Linked DNA regions of Homo sapiens. The protein of the gene in region 1 purifies or fractionates together with the protein of each later gene. This does not show direct contact. Each region holds a gene or a part of one and is shown in the gene's direction. Other genes may lie near its edges.

The links. The genes of interacting proteins can lie anywhere in the genome.
Region 2: the proteins of SLC25A13 (region 1) and ELAVL1 fractionate together in Homo sapiens (co-fractionation; one large-scale study listed by BioGRID). This does not show direct contact.
Region 3: the proteins of SLC25A13 (region 1) and HSDL2 purify together in Homo sapiens (affinity purification with mass spectrometry; one large-scale study listed by BioGRID and IntAct). This does not show direct contact.
Region 4: the proteins of SLC25A13 (region 1) and SLX4 purify together in Homo sapiens (co-immunoprecipitation; one large-scale study listed by IntAct). This does not show direct contact.

The regions. Positions count from the first base shown.
Region 1 is NC_000007.14:96,312,099-96,315,598, reverse strand, and holds part of SLC25A13 (electrogenic aspartate/glutamate antiporter SLC25A13, mitochondrial), read left to right. Parts: intron 1-3,500. UniProt on the Homo sapiens protein: Mitochondrial electrogenic aspartate/glutamate antiporter that favors efflux of aspartate and entry of glutamate and proton within the mitochondria as part of the malate-aspartate shuttle.
Region 2 is NC_000019.10:7,958,073-7,960,641, reverse strand, and holds the end of ELAVL1 (ELAV-like protein 1), read left to right. Parts: 3' UTR 1-2,069; downstream 2,070-2,569. UniProt on the Homo sapiens protein: RNA-binding protein that binds to the 3'-UTR region of mRNAs and increases their stability.
Region 3 is NC_000009.12:112,467,108-112,470,006, forward strand, and holds part of HSDL2 (hydroxysteroid dehydrogenase-like protein 2), read left to right. Parts: intron 1-2,615; exon of another isoform or gene 2,616-2,730; intron 2,731-2,899. UniProt on the Homo sapiens protein: Has apparently no steroid dehydrogenase activity. Controls bile acid (BA) and lipid metabolism in response to nutritional cues.
Region 4 is NC_000016.10:3,598,107-3,601,606, reverse strand, and holds part of SLX4 (structure-specific endonuclease subunit SLX4), read left to right. Parts: intron 1-415; coding exon 416-628; intron 629-2,118; exon of another isoform or gene 2,119-3,446; coding exon of another isoform or gene 3,447-3,500. UniProt on the Homo sapiens protein: Regulatory subunit that interacts with and increases the activity of different structure-specific endonucleases.

The DNA.
Region 1 (3,500 bases):
GGAATTTATGTTAACACAATGATCTTTACTCTTTCCTTCCTCAGTCCTGTCCCCTTTTACCAGGAGAGTCCTAGAAATGGAGTCCCAGAAACATTTGTTATTGGTCCAAATTCCCATGAATGCCTTTGCTTTTGGCACTGCTCTAGGCCAGTGATTCCCTACATACTGAAGTCTTCTGGACTGGTATAAAAAACTGCTGATGCCTGGGTCTCCCTCCAGAGATCATGATTGAATTGGACTTGGGTGTGGCCTGAGCCTCAGGATTTTTGAAAGCTTGACAACCACTGTTATTTTGGTGCACATTGCTTCAAGAGACCTGCTGGCTCCTTCTTGGAGTAAGAATGGAATGCAGTGAGATTAAGTTAAAGTCCCTGGTGTGTCAGTTCAAAGGAGGGGTATGTAGGGGTTTCTCCAAATTTCTCTTCTTTCTTGACAGCTTTGTCTTAGTCCTGCCTGGTGTCTCCAGGGTGCTTAGGCATCAAGTTTATACAGTTTTGTGATAATCCTGGAATAGAGGTTTTAATCCCAAACTTGACTGAAAGCTCCATTTGTCTCCTGCAGAGTCTCAGTGGTTTTTTGTGATCAGAGAAGGTGCTGGAGGAGGGAAGCATTACAAAGAGCAAACCTGGTCTCAGAGCCCTCTCCTGGGCTAACCTCATCCAGGGCCATGTGGTGCCAGTGTTCCCTGGCTTAGGTCATATGGCTTCACAGCAAATAGAGGGTTGGAAAGGTGTGGGGAGAGTTGAAAGGTGATATGTAGCGTAAAAAAGTCAGGGAGCAGGTCTTTTTTGGATATTGAGTTCTTTTAGAAGATTGTCCGAGGAGCTCTGACTCCTCTGTGCTTTGGTCTCTTAGACCTTTAGTCCCATGACCAGTCTCTGCTTTTGATGAATTCTTAGAGGGAACCATTCCTCCCTTTGTTCTCCACTATGTGTGAGGATTATCTATTATGGCATTCCTGCTGAGCGCTTCCTCCTCTCTGGTTGGCATTTGCTGCCTCATAAACACCTACAGATTTCCTCATAAGACTCTGTGGGTTTGCCTTAGGGTGGACCTTGCAACAGAGGAATGTGTGACGCTGAGACATGTGTTGGTTCTGCTTGGAGGTAAGGAGGGGGATATGCCTTTGTGTAGTGATACAATTCCTTTAGCAAAGTATTTAACAGCTACTGAGCAAACTCTATTTTCATGGCCTGTTTAACCAGACAGACCCTCTAATTGGGTGAAATGAACTAAATTAAATGTCCTTCTCCTAAAAGTCACCAGTAACCTCAGTTCTAAACCTGTTGGCTTGTCCTCATTTCTGGCCTCACATGACCCTGTGTCCTACCCTTTCTTTCTCGCCATCTGCTTTCATGATGTCCCCTCTCATTATTGGCCTCTAGCATCTCATATTACCCCTTTATTCTCCTTTGCAGGCTTCTTCTTCTTCTTCCTTCTTCTTCGTCCTTCATCCTTTCTCCTCCTTCCTTCCTCCTTCTTCCTCCTCCTTCTCCTTCCTTCTTCTTTCTTCTTTCGTCTTCTTTCTTCCCAGCAAAGATATATTTTTATTTTAGTGTTTAGCAGCATGACATATGCATATAGAATGATAGTACACTTTACCCTAATCTTCAAAACAGAATGTACTAGTTTACCAATGAGGAATTTTGGCCAAAAATGTAGTGTTTTTCCCTTCCCTGTACAGGTCAGGTATATGTAGGTCCAGCACTAATGCTGCACCTTTTGAGAAGCATTACTTTAGCAAAAATCTAGAAATCTTTCACTTTTTCTGAATCTAACAAAGGGTCTTACTTTCTTTTTTTTTAAATGTACATTTTAAAAAATAATTTCAACTTTTATTTTAGATTCCGGAGGTACATGTACAGATTTGTTACCTGGATATATTGCATGATGCTGAGGCTTGGGGTACAGTTGACCCCATCACCCAGGTACTGAGCATAGTACCCAATAATTAGTTTTTCAACCCTTGTTCCCCTCCCTCCTCCCTCTAGTAGTCCCCAGTGTCTATTGTTGCCATCTTTATGTCCATGAGTACCCATTGTTTAGCTCCCACTTATAAGTGAGAACATGTGATATTTGGTTTTCTGTTCCTGCATTAATTCACTTAGGATCATAGCCTCCAGCTGCATCCATGTTGTTGCAAAGGACATGATTTTGTTCTTTTTATATCTGCAAGGTATTCCACGGTGGATATATACCACATTTTCTTTATGCAATTCACCATTGATGGGCACCTAGGTTGGTTTCCTGTCTTTGCTACTGTGAATAGTGCTGTGCCTTGTGGGCTTCTCTTCATTCTGCCTGGACACCTGGAAGGTTAGTGTCCCCCAAGGCTGTGCCTGAGATTGTCTCCTCCCTCCAGTTCCTGCCGCACTACCTGCCCCCTTAATGGGTATTGGCTCCTTAACACTCCTCAGCCTGGGTGGCTGTCTCAAGCTCTAGCCCTGCACTTTTAGCTGTTTAGTTTGAGCTGGAAGACTCAACTTGTCTGTCTCAAAGATATTTCAAACTCTGCTGACCTAGAACTCACCAGTTCTTATAACTGAATCCATCTTTTTGGTCATTCCTGACTTCATCCTGCAGCTTCACTTTCCTGATAAAGTTTCTAGTTAGTTCAATTAAGTACCTGTTATGGGCAGATAGGAGAGACACCATCAGCCTGAATTGGATGTGGCAAAAGAGGTGGATCAGTGAAACCCTTCTACGGCCATGGAGCATGTATGTCCTATCTTCTCTGTTCAAATTCAGGGCCTCTTTATTTTGTAGCTGTACCATTGCTGTAGCTCCCACTGATCCCCTTGCTTTTGATCTCATCCCTACACCTTCCTCTCCATTCTGTCCAGACTGCCAAAGGACTTTTCTAAGATTGGCTCTTGTTGCCATGATAATAGCACTACCGTGTTCATGGGTACAGTACTTAGCAGCTTTAAAAAGTGCATTCAAGGGCATAAGTGACGACGACTGTTTGTCAGTGCCTACACTGTGCTGGGATTCCAAAAACAGGTAAGCTACTAGATTTGTTTTCAAGAAGCTCAAAGTCTTCAGGGATTAATATAACCAGATAATATAAAGACCCAAGCTTCATTATTTGATCTTTATAATCATCTACAAGGTAGCAGGGAACGTGTTGATAACCTCATTTGTCAGATAAAGAAACCTAAGGCTCAAAAAGGTTATGCAAATAATAATAATAATATTAGCATATGTTTATATAACACTTGTAAAAGCCGGACACTGTTCCAAGCACTTTATATCTACTAATGCAATCTTCATAACAATCCTATGACATGTAAGTGCTCTCACCTTCATAATATACATCGAGAAACTCATTTGTACAGAGTAGTTAAGTTCTTTGAGGTACAGAGAGATTACATAACTTGCCCAAGATCACATGGCTTGTAAATAGGAGAGCTATGATTTCAACACAGGCAGCCTGGCTCCAGAGCCCAAGCACATAACCAGTGTGCTGCATTGCCCTCTTTAATTTATCTTGCTATGCA
Region 2 (2,569 bases), on another chromosome or scaffold:
CCTTTTGACCCGTGTGTAACTTCCTCTGGTAGTTAGACCCCAGGCAGCTCCGAATTTGTGAACCTGCTTCCTGATGAATTCTCCCTTGTTCCCCCTTGGCTCTGCCATTATTTCGTTTTCAGTGTAATTTGCCAAGCCGCAGTTTTCTGTGCTGGCTGTGCCTCTAGTCGCAGCTCTGTGACTGATTCCCTCCCGGGTGCTGAGTCCCCTCCCCGGCCACCATCCTGCGTGAATATCCTGAAATTCATGGGCTTCCTCGGGGGCCCGCCCGCAGGTGGTGCTGGGTGGGTTCCGCCACCTTCTCCTGGAAGGTGAGCCTTTTCCTGGCCAAGGGCAGCTGCCTTAACCTCTGAGAGTCTGCGCTTGGCCTTAGTCCTGGAGACCCAGCCTCCAGGGACTGAACCGTGCTGCTGTTGGGAGCCAAGACCGGCCCTTTGGAGCCGGCAGCCCAGGGGTCCCTGCTGGATCAGAGAAATAGAAGCACCCGAAGACGGTTAGTGGCAATTCCTTGACCCGGTTTGCTTCCAAATGAAGGCCATTTGTCCACCAGGCATTGAAAAGACATGACTTACCCAGTCCGGCATCGGACTTGAAAAATCGAAATTGACATCACTCAGCTGTTACATTTCACATCCGATTCAGCCCCCTTTTATTTCCATGTGCTTTTCGCAGCCTTCCTGTGTTGGATGAAAGAGAATAAGAATTCAGCTGACAGGAGGCCTCTATCCTGTCCCTCCACCCCACCCTCCACCTCAATCCCCTCCCATCTTCCCCAGACCTACCTCACCTACTAGGACCTGAGGCAGCTCCTTAGCAGAGACCCCTGGGGTTTAGCTGACTCTGGGGGTCAGGGGTTCCTGTCCCCAAACTTCGCAAGACAGCCCTGAAGTCACAAGTGCTTTCTTTTAAGTGGCATTGGCAATTGGCGTGTAATGATGGCAGTAGAATCTGAATCTCGGATCCCAGGCAGGGTTCACATTTCCAAACCTTTTTGATTTCCCCTGACCTCTAATGGCTGGATCCTATTTTTCTACAACCTTTCAGTGACATCGTTCAGGTTTCTTTCTTGGCCATTTAAAAAAACAAATTTTTTTTTTCTCACTTGTAAGTCACCGCCAGTACCTAAGTTAGGCTAACGGAGACTTTGACAGGACTGGATTTTTCTTCCACCAGAAGAGAAGCCTTTTCCGTTGGTTTGGGGCCACCTCTTTGACCATGACCATGTGATGTTCCGTTTACAGTGACTTGCTTTGGGGGAGGGGAGGCTCTCTTAACCGATTCCCATGTTGTACAGTAGATGGTTAGACCTTTTGTATATTAGTGTGTTTTAAGTTATTGATTTGTTTTATATAAAATAATTTATTTTTCAGGTGCCATTTTTCATTTTAACTTTGTTTTTACATGGGTTTGTTTTCAATAAAGTCTGACACTGGTGTCCAAAAGTCAACAATAAAATGAATCCCATTGTGTTCTTTTGAAGATGCCTATGTAACTTTTAAGCTTTTTAAATTATTTTCAGAAAAAAAAAAAGAAAAGCCCTTATCAGTTTTCCATCAGCCCATTGCCTTTTTATTTTTTTTTTTTAATCCTTGTGAATAAATGTTCTTTAGTGTTTTAGGAGGAAAAAGCAAACCTAGATTTTGATAACCCAGAAGACTTCAGATTAATAAAGAAGCTTTGAAAGAAGACCATTTTTCAAAATTTTAGTGAAGTGTGAATATTTTTTGTCAATGGCTTTCTCAAAGAGAATGAAACTTTTGCACCATTTTCAGAGTTTTTATAGAGATGCCAAATTGATATATTTACATGTAATGGAAACATGAAAAAGTTTTATTAAACAATTGTTCATAGCTGTGTAGACATTTTAATTCAGTTTCCAAAGCTCTCAAAAAATCGTATTTTTGAAGTACGGAGTGATGCGGTTTGGGGCGTGGCTTACAGTTCCAACGACTCAATTGTCCCGATACTCAGTTCTTTCTACAGGTATCAGGTTCGTGTTAAACGCTGTATGTTAACTATGACTGGAATTCTGTGATATTTTGGTAATAAATGAAGTGGGATCATTGCGATGTGCTGGTGTAGGGGTGATGGTGTATGACTTGTGAGCAGCCCACAGCCCAGTAATAGAGTGCCAGGGGATGGGGACCTCTTCCCTCCGAGGTAAGCCTGTGCCAGGTCCCGGGAGCCCACGAGGGGACACCCAGTTCGGGTGTGCCCTGTGCTGGCTGACCCACGGCCCTTCAGCTCCCACCCAGATGCCCCTCTTCTCCAGGTTCACAGGTCAGTGGGCCCACCGAGTGGCCCCTGGGTATGGCCCCCCTCCATCTGCTTCCCACACCAGTGCTCCCCCAACAGTGACCCGGGGATCCTGCCTCTTCCCTCGTCTGTATGTGGAACCATAGTCACTCCCGAGCCCTGGGGCCATCCTCAGTGTCCCCTCCGTGAGACTGATCTCCTTTGTCTCCTTTGGGATGGGAATGGTTAGGGGTCTCAAGGTCAGAGAGTCCAGGTTCAAATCCTGGCTCTGACACCACTCCCCAGCGTGCCACCCAGGGGAAAGTCCCTGGCT
Region 3 (2,899 bases), on another chromosome or scaffold:
AAATGTACATGCATATTCACAGCAGCGCTATTCACAATAGGCAAAAGACAGAAACAACCTAAATGTCCATTAAGGGATGCATGGATAAACAAAGTGTGGTATATACATATAATGAAATAGCAGTCAGCCATAAAAAGGAATGAAGTACTAATACATGCTACACCATGGGACATTATGCTAAATGAAAAAAGCCAGACACCAAAGATCACATATTGTAGAAATCCTTTTATATTAAATATCTAGAATAGGTGCATCCATAGACACAGAGAGCTGTTGGTGGTTGCCAGAGTCTGGAGGCAGGGGGAGCTGCTAATGCTGAATCCCTGAGGGTTTCATTTTGGGATGATGAAAATGGTTGAAACTAGATAGATACCACGTGTTGCGTGGTGGTACACAACATTGTACCTGGACTTAAATGCCACTAAATTGTTTCTCTTCCTTTTCTTATAAGGGCACTAATCCCATCATTCCGGCTCCATCCTCATGATTTCACCTAAACCAAATTATTTTCCCAAGGCCCCACTTCCTGAGACCATCACACTGAGGGCAAGAGCTTCAAGATATGAAGTTTGTGGGGAATGCCAACATTCAGTCCATGACACTAAGCAAAGTCTTCCTGTACTCTTCCCACAGCTTCTTGATGCAGTTTTCTACGTTGTCAAATGTATCAGCTTGTGTCAGTCCACTTTTTCCCCGGAGCCCTTTGTCTTCATGTTATAATCTAGACCTGAAGCTCATTAAGCCTGCTACACAGCTGTTGTCCTAGAAATTTAACTCTCTCCTGCACTGAATCTCCTGTTTCCTGGATCCCATGTCTTCTTTCTTCCTTTACATCTTCAATTTGGTGGCACACATTGTCCAGTAGTTTCATGAGAAAGGATACATTAGAGATAATTTTTGTGTGTATCTGAAACTACTATTATTCTACCAACTCTCTTGATTGTTTGTCTGGGTAGAGATTTCCAGGTTGCAATTCATTTTCCCTCAGAATTTTGAAGCCATTGCTTTATCATCTTAAGATTATCGTTGAGAATTTGATGTTGTTCGTCTTAATCTTTTCTATCTACCCCTGTCCTTTCTGAAAGTTTTTGAAATCAGAGACATATTTCTCTGTGGTAGTCTGATATTTCACAGTGATAAAAGGTAAATGTCATTTTCCCAGCCCCTTGAAAAGTTCTTATATTATTTCTTTGATAGTTCTCTCAGTTTTCTCTCTTCTGACTTTCTGGAGAAAAAGATCATCTGATTTAATCACTCATTTCTCCTATTACACATATATTTGTATAATTCTTTTCACCTTCTAGGAGATCGACTCACCTTCTTTTTCCTACCTTTCTATTGCATTTTAATTTTGTTGACTAAAATTTTACTTTCTAAGAGCTCATCTTGTTTTCTGATGGTTTTTCTTCCTCCTCCTCAATCCAACCCATCCCCTCTCCTTCCCTGGCATCACTGCCTTTCCCCCTTTCCCTTTTTCTCCTCTCTCCCTCTCCTTCATCCCCTCTTCTTCTCCTCTCTCCTTCCTGTGCTCCTCCTCTTCCCTCTTTCTCCACCTGCATCCTGTTCCCCATCCCTTGCTGTATTATTTTCTTTTATCTCTGAGGGCAGAGATTGTGGAATTTTTAATTTGTTCTCCATTTACTCTACTTTAGTTATCTTTTGTCTGAGCCAGCATTCTGTTTCCTCCAAGTTGCTCTTATCTGTGTTTTGGTTTTGGTTATATTTGATGTCCATTCATCTCTATGGGCAAGGCTCTGCAAAGCTCATTGGAAGATGTGTGTGAGTGGGGTGGGTGGAATGGTAGGCTTCACTGTAGAATAACAGAGCATGATCCAGTTGATTTAGCTGAAGGACACCCAGATGTCTGTATCTGTGTTTTTGGACGGGCTGTTCTGTTCCTTCCAGAATAAAGATCTTTCAGTATCCTCCATGTAAATAAAAGTTACCCCTTCATTTATTATTTGTAAGTATTGGGATTTTAACATCACACTGTCTTAAAGTAGGACACAGCTCAGTTTATTCATTAAAATAAAAGAGTTGGACTTGATCCTTTCTACCTATAATAACTCCATGAGGCTTTGCTATAACCTCTATTTAGAATAATTTAAAGGCATTTAATAGCTTAATATAATATATATATAATATATTAACTCACACACTTTCTCTGCAAAGAACCTGTGTGGGGCACAGGGGTGGGGAGGGTGGCTACTAAGCTACTAATAAACCAAACACATATTGTGCCTTCTAGAAGATATGTCATCTATATCAATTAGCATAATGTAAGACAGAAAATCATAAATGAGGCTGGGCCAGATGGCTCACATCTGTAATCTCAGCACTCTGGGAGGCAGGTGGATCACTTGAGACCAGCCTGGGCAACATGGCAAAACCCCATCTCTATAAAAAATTAGCCCTGCATGGTGTTGCTTGCCTGTAGTCCAGCTACTCAGGAGGCTGAGGTGGGAGGTTCAGATGAGCCTGGGAAGTCAAGGCTGCAGTAAGCCATGTACTCCACTGTACATGTACTCCAGCCTGGGAGACAGAGTGAGACCTTGTCTCAAAAAAAAAAAAAAAAAAAAAAAGGAAAAAAAGTCATAAATGAAAGGCAGACATACCTGGCTTTAAATTGCAGCACTGCCTCATACAAGCTGTGTGACCTTGAGCAAGCCAAAATCCTTTTTGAGTCTGTTTCCTCATTAATTCCACTATGTGATAGACCCCGTACTGACACTGGAATAAGAGTAGCAGATAACAAATGTACTTCTCTCCATGGAGCTCATATTTATTACATGTTGTTATTAGGTACAATTCTATTTTAATGCTTACATTTTTTTATACCCTGGCATTTCTGTGGTTAAAGTAATGCTAACACATATTTTGTGTCCATACACTATACTTT
Region 4 (3,500 bases), on another chromosome or scaffold:
TCCCATTCTTAGATGAGGAATATGACCATGGTTTATCCTTTCGTCCATTGGCGGACATTTGGAGCATTTCTACCCTTTGGGATTGTGGATAGAGCTGCCGTGAACATGGGTTTCATGTATTTGTTTGGGTACCTGCTTTCAGTTCTTTGGGGTCTCTACTTAGGAGTGGAATTTCTAAGTCATCATGTAACTGCATTTAATCTTTCCTTGCTTTCTTTAGCCAACTTTGCTGACAGATACCTAAGTGTAGTGTCTAGGGGCTGACTGCCGGGAGACGGAGCCAGGCTGTGTAGAGGGGATTGGCTTTGGGGAACTTGCTTTGACCACAGCACGTCTGTGTTGACCTGGACCCACATTTGCTCCAATCCACATTCCTGGGGAGGGTGGTTCTCCTGTATTGACTGTTTTCCTTCAGGTGCTTGGATGAAGCTGAAAAGACACTAAGACCTTCTGTGCCTCAGATCCCTGAGTGCCCGATTTGTGGGAAACCGTTTCTTACCTTAAAGAGCAGAACCAGTCACTTGAAGCAGTGTGCTGTGAAGATGGAGGTTGGCCCCCAGCTCCTGCTTCAGGCTGTGCGGCTGCAGACAGCACAGCCTGAGGGTAGCAGCAGCCCACCCATGTTCAGGTAAGTCGACGAAAAGGAAGAAAACCAAGCCAAATAATGCTGTGTGCACTCAGGGCTTTTTCTATTTAAAAAAGCTTTTTATGGGCTGGACGCAGTAGTTCACACCTGTAATCGCAGCACTTTGGGAGGCCAAGGTGGGCAGATCACCTTAGATCAGGAGTTCGATACCAGCCTGGCCGACATGGTACAATCTCGTCTCTACTAAAAATACAAAAATTAGCATGGTGGCACATGCCTGTAGTCCCAGCTACTTGGGAGGCTGAGGCAGGAGAATCACTTGAACCCAGAAGGTAGAGGTTGCAGTGAGCCAAGATCGTACCACTGCACTCCAGCCTGGACAGAGTGAGATCCTGTCTCCAAAAAAAAAAAAAAAAAAAAAAAAAAAAAGCTTTTTATAGTGTTGGAGGGAAAAAGAGCCCTCTTTGATTCTGGAAATGAAACACTTAGGGCGGAAATCGGGCACAGTCTAGAAGGGAGTGAGGAGGGGACAGAATCTGCATTCTGGAAGGCTCTGGACCTGCCCCTTTAGGGGGGTGCAGAAATGATCTTCGCACTGTTTTCCTCAAGGTCCTTCCTGAGTTTCCAATCCCATGATCCCACAGTCGGTACCCTCTAGTGCAGGGGTCCCCAACCCCCCAGCCTCGGACCAGTACCGGTCTGTGGCCTGTTAGGAACCTGGCCACACAGCAGGAGGTGAGCAGCGGGCAGGCAAGCTTTACTGCCTGAGCTCCGCCTCCTGTCAGATCAGTGGTGGCATTAGACTCACAGGAACACAAACCCTGTTGTGAGCCGCACATGCATGGAATCTAGGTTGAGCTCTCCTTATGAAAATCTAAAGCCTGATGATCTGAGGTGGAATGCTTTGATGCTGAAACCATTCCCCTACTCCTGTCCCATGGAAAAATTGTCTTCCATGAAACCAGTTCCTGGTACCAAAAAGGTTGGGGACTACTGCTTTACCACATCTAAGAATTTGGTAGTCACTTTACTCCATCCATTTCGTTGTTGGACAGCATGGTTTCCACCTCAGCACAGTCCAGTTTTCACACTGTTAACATAAGATTACTCAGCACAGTTCACAGATTTGGTGATTGGCCAGGCACGGTAGCTTACACCTGTAATCTCAATACTTTGGGAGGCCAGGGCGGAAGGATCACTTGAGCCCAGGAGTTCAAGGCCAGCCTGGACTACATAGCAAGACCCATCACTACAAAAAATTAAAAAATTAGCTGGCTGTGGTGCTGCACACCTGTAGTCCCAGCTACGTGGGAGGCTGAGGCGGAAGGATCACTTGAGCCTGGGAGGCCAAGGTTGCAATGAGCTGTGATTGCACCACTGCACTCCAGCCTGGGCGACAGGGCAAGAACCTGTCTTCATAAAACAAACAAAAACAACAACAAAGTTGGTGCAACAGAAGTGTAGGACCCTATTTTTTAAAAATCTTGCATGAATTAATGCTTAAAAGTTAAAATGAGTTGCCTTGCTCACAGCCAGGAAACAAGTCCTCAGCATGCAAACCACAGCCACACAAGTGCCAGAGGGCTGGCCCTGCTCCACGCTGCCCTGCTGCTGAGGACGCTAGAGCTGACACCAGGTTCATAGTGAACAAAGGCATCTTGGACCTTTGACTCCTCCAGGTTTGAGACCGCTGTCAGGAGCAAAGGGAAGGCCAAAGGCGATAGCTGTTTGTCCCGCCCCCTGCTTTGCACACAGGTCATGGGCAGCTGAGCTGGCTCGGGGCTGAGATGGCAGAGGGCAGAGGGGATTCTCTTGGTGGAGGAGCGCATCTGTATTTAGCATGGCAGGGGTGCAAGCCTTGAGGCCTTAGAATAGACGTCATCTAAGCCATTGTTTCTTTCTTGGCAGGACCACGCCAAAAGCACCTGCTCAGATAAAGTATGTCTGCCTTTAGAATACCTCCAAGTACTGAAACTAGATGTATGTGGATCCGTTTAGAAGGTTGTCAGAGTAGAAAACTACAGGAGCTGGATGCCCTCATGGGGTCTTTGAACCCCTCCCTCCCCAAAGGCCAAGCCTGTGGTCATCAGAACGCATGCCCCGGCCAGAGTGCCTCATATTCTTTCCCCACAGCCCAAACCTGGCCTGCTGGGGAGTGAGGAGGGAACACAGTCTGTGTTCCCTTCACAGAAGCAGGGTCCCAGGCTGCCCAGGCAGCTCCTTTCCCTCTGGGAGGCTGTGATTATCCACGTTCCTGGGAAGGTGAACTTGAGCCATCCCTGGCACCCTGGAGAGCATGAGCTTTTGCAAAAGCCAGAGGCATGACTGCATTGCAGGGAAGGTGGGCCCGGTTTGTGCTAAGTTCCTTTGTCACCTCTGCCCTCCTCCTTCTTGCCCAGCTTATTGGGAGTCACCCAGGCAGCCTAGGTTCTCTCCAGCCGGAAACTCCTGTTCATTTCCTCCAAACCAAACGAGCTGCTGCCCGTTGAAAGTGCAGAGTCCCGGGGCGGCTGGTATAATGTTGACCATCGGCAGCCTAAGCTGGGAAGCCCTTCCTTCTGGCCATGGACAGAGGCACTGCCGTGGAGCCCTTGCAGGAGGGAAGGGATCCTTTTCTGCCGGTGTGGCCAGGACCGTGTAAGGAGCATCGGAAGTATTGATGGGTGAAGGTGGTGGGAGTCCAGGGAGCCTGCTCAGAGCCATCGATTGTTGACTCCATTGGATGGGCTTGGCCACATGAGGATGTGCAGGTACCACAGATGGCTCCGTACATCTGCCATGAGCCTGCTGGACAGCAGCACGTGAAGGAACCCAGACCCTCCTGTGCCTGGGCCATGTTGAACTTCTGGCCTGGAATTGAATGAGTTCACACAAGGCAGTGGAAGTGGGGGACGCATCTGCCTGGCAGGTCCAC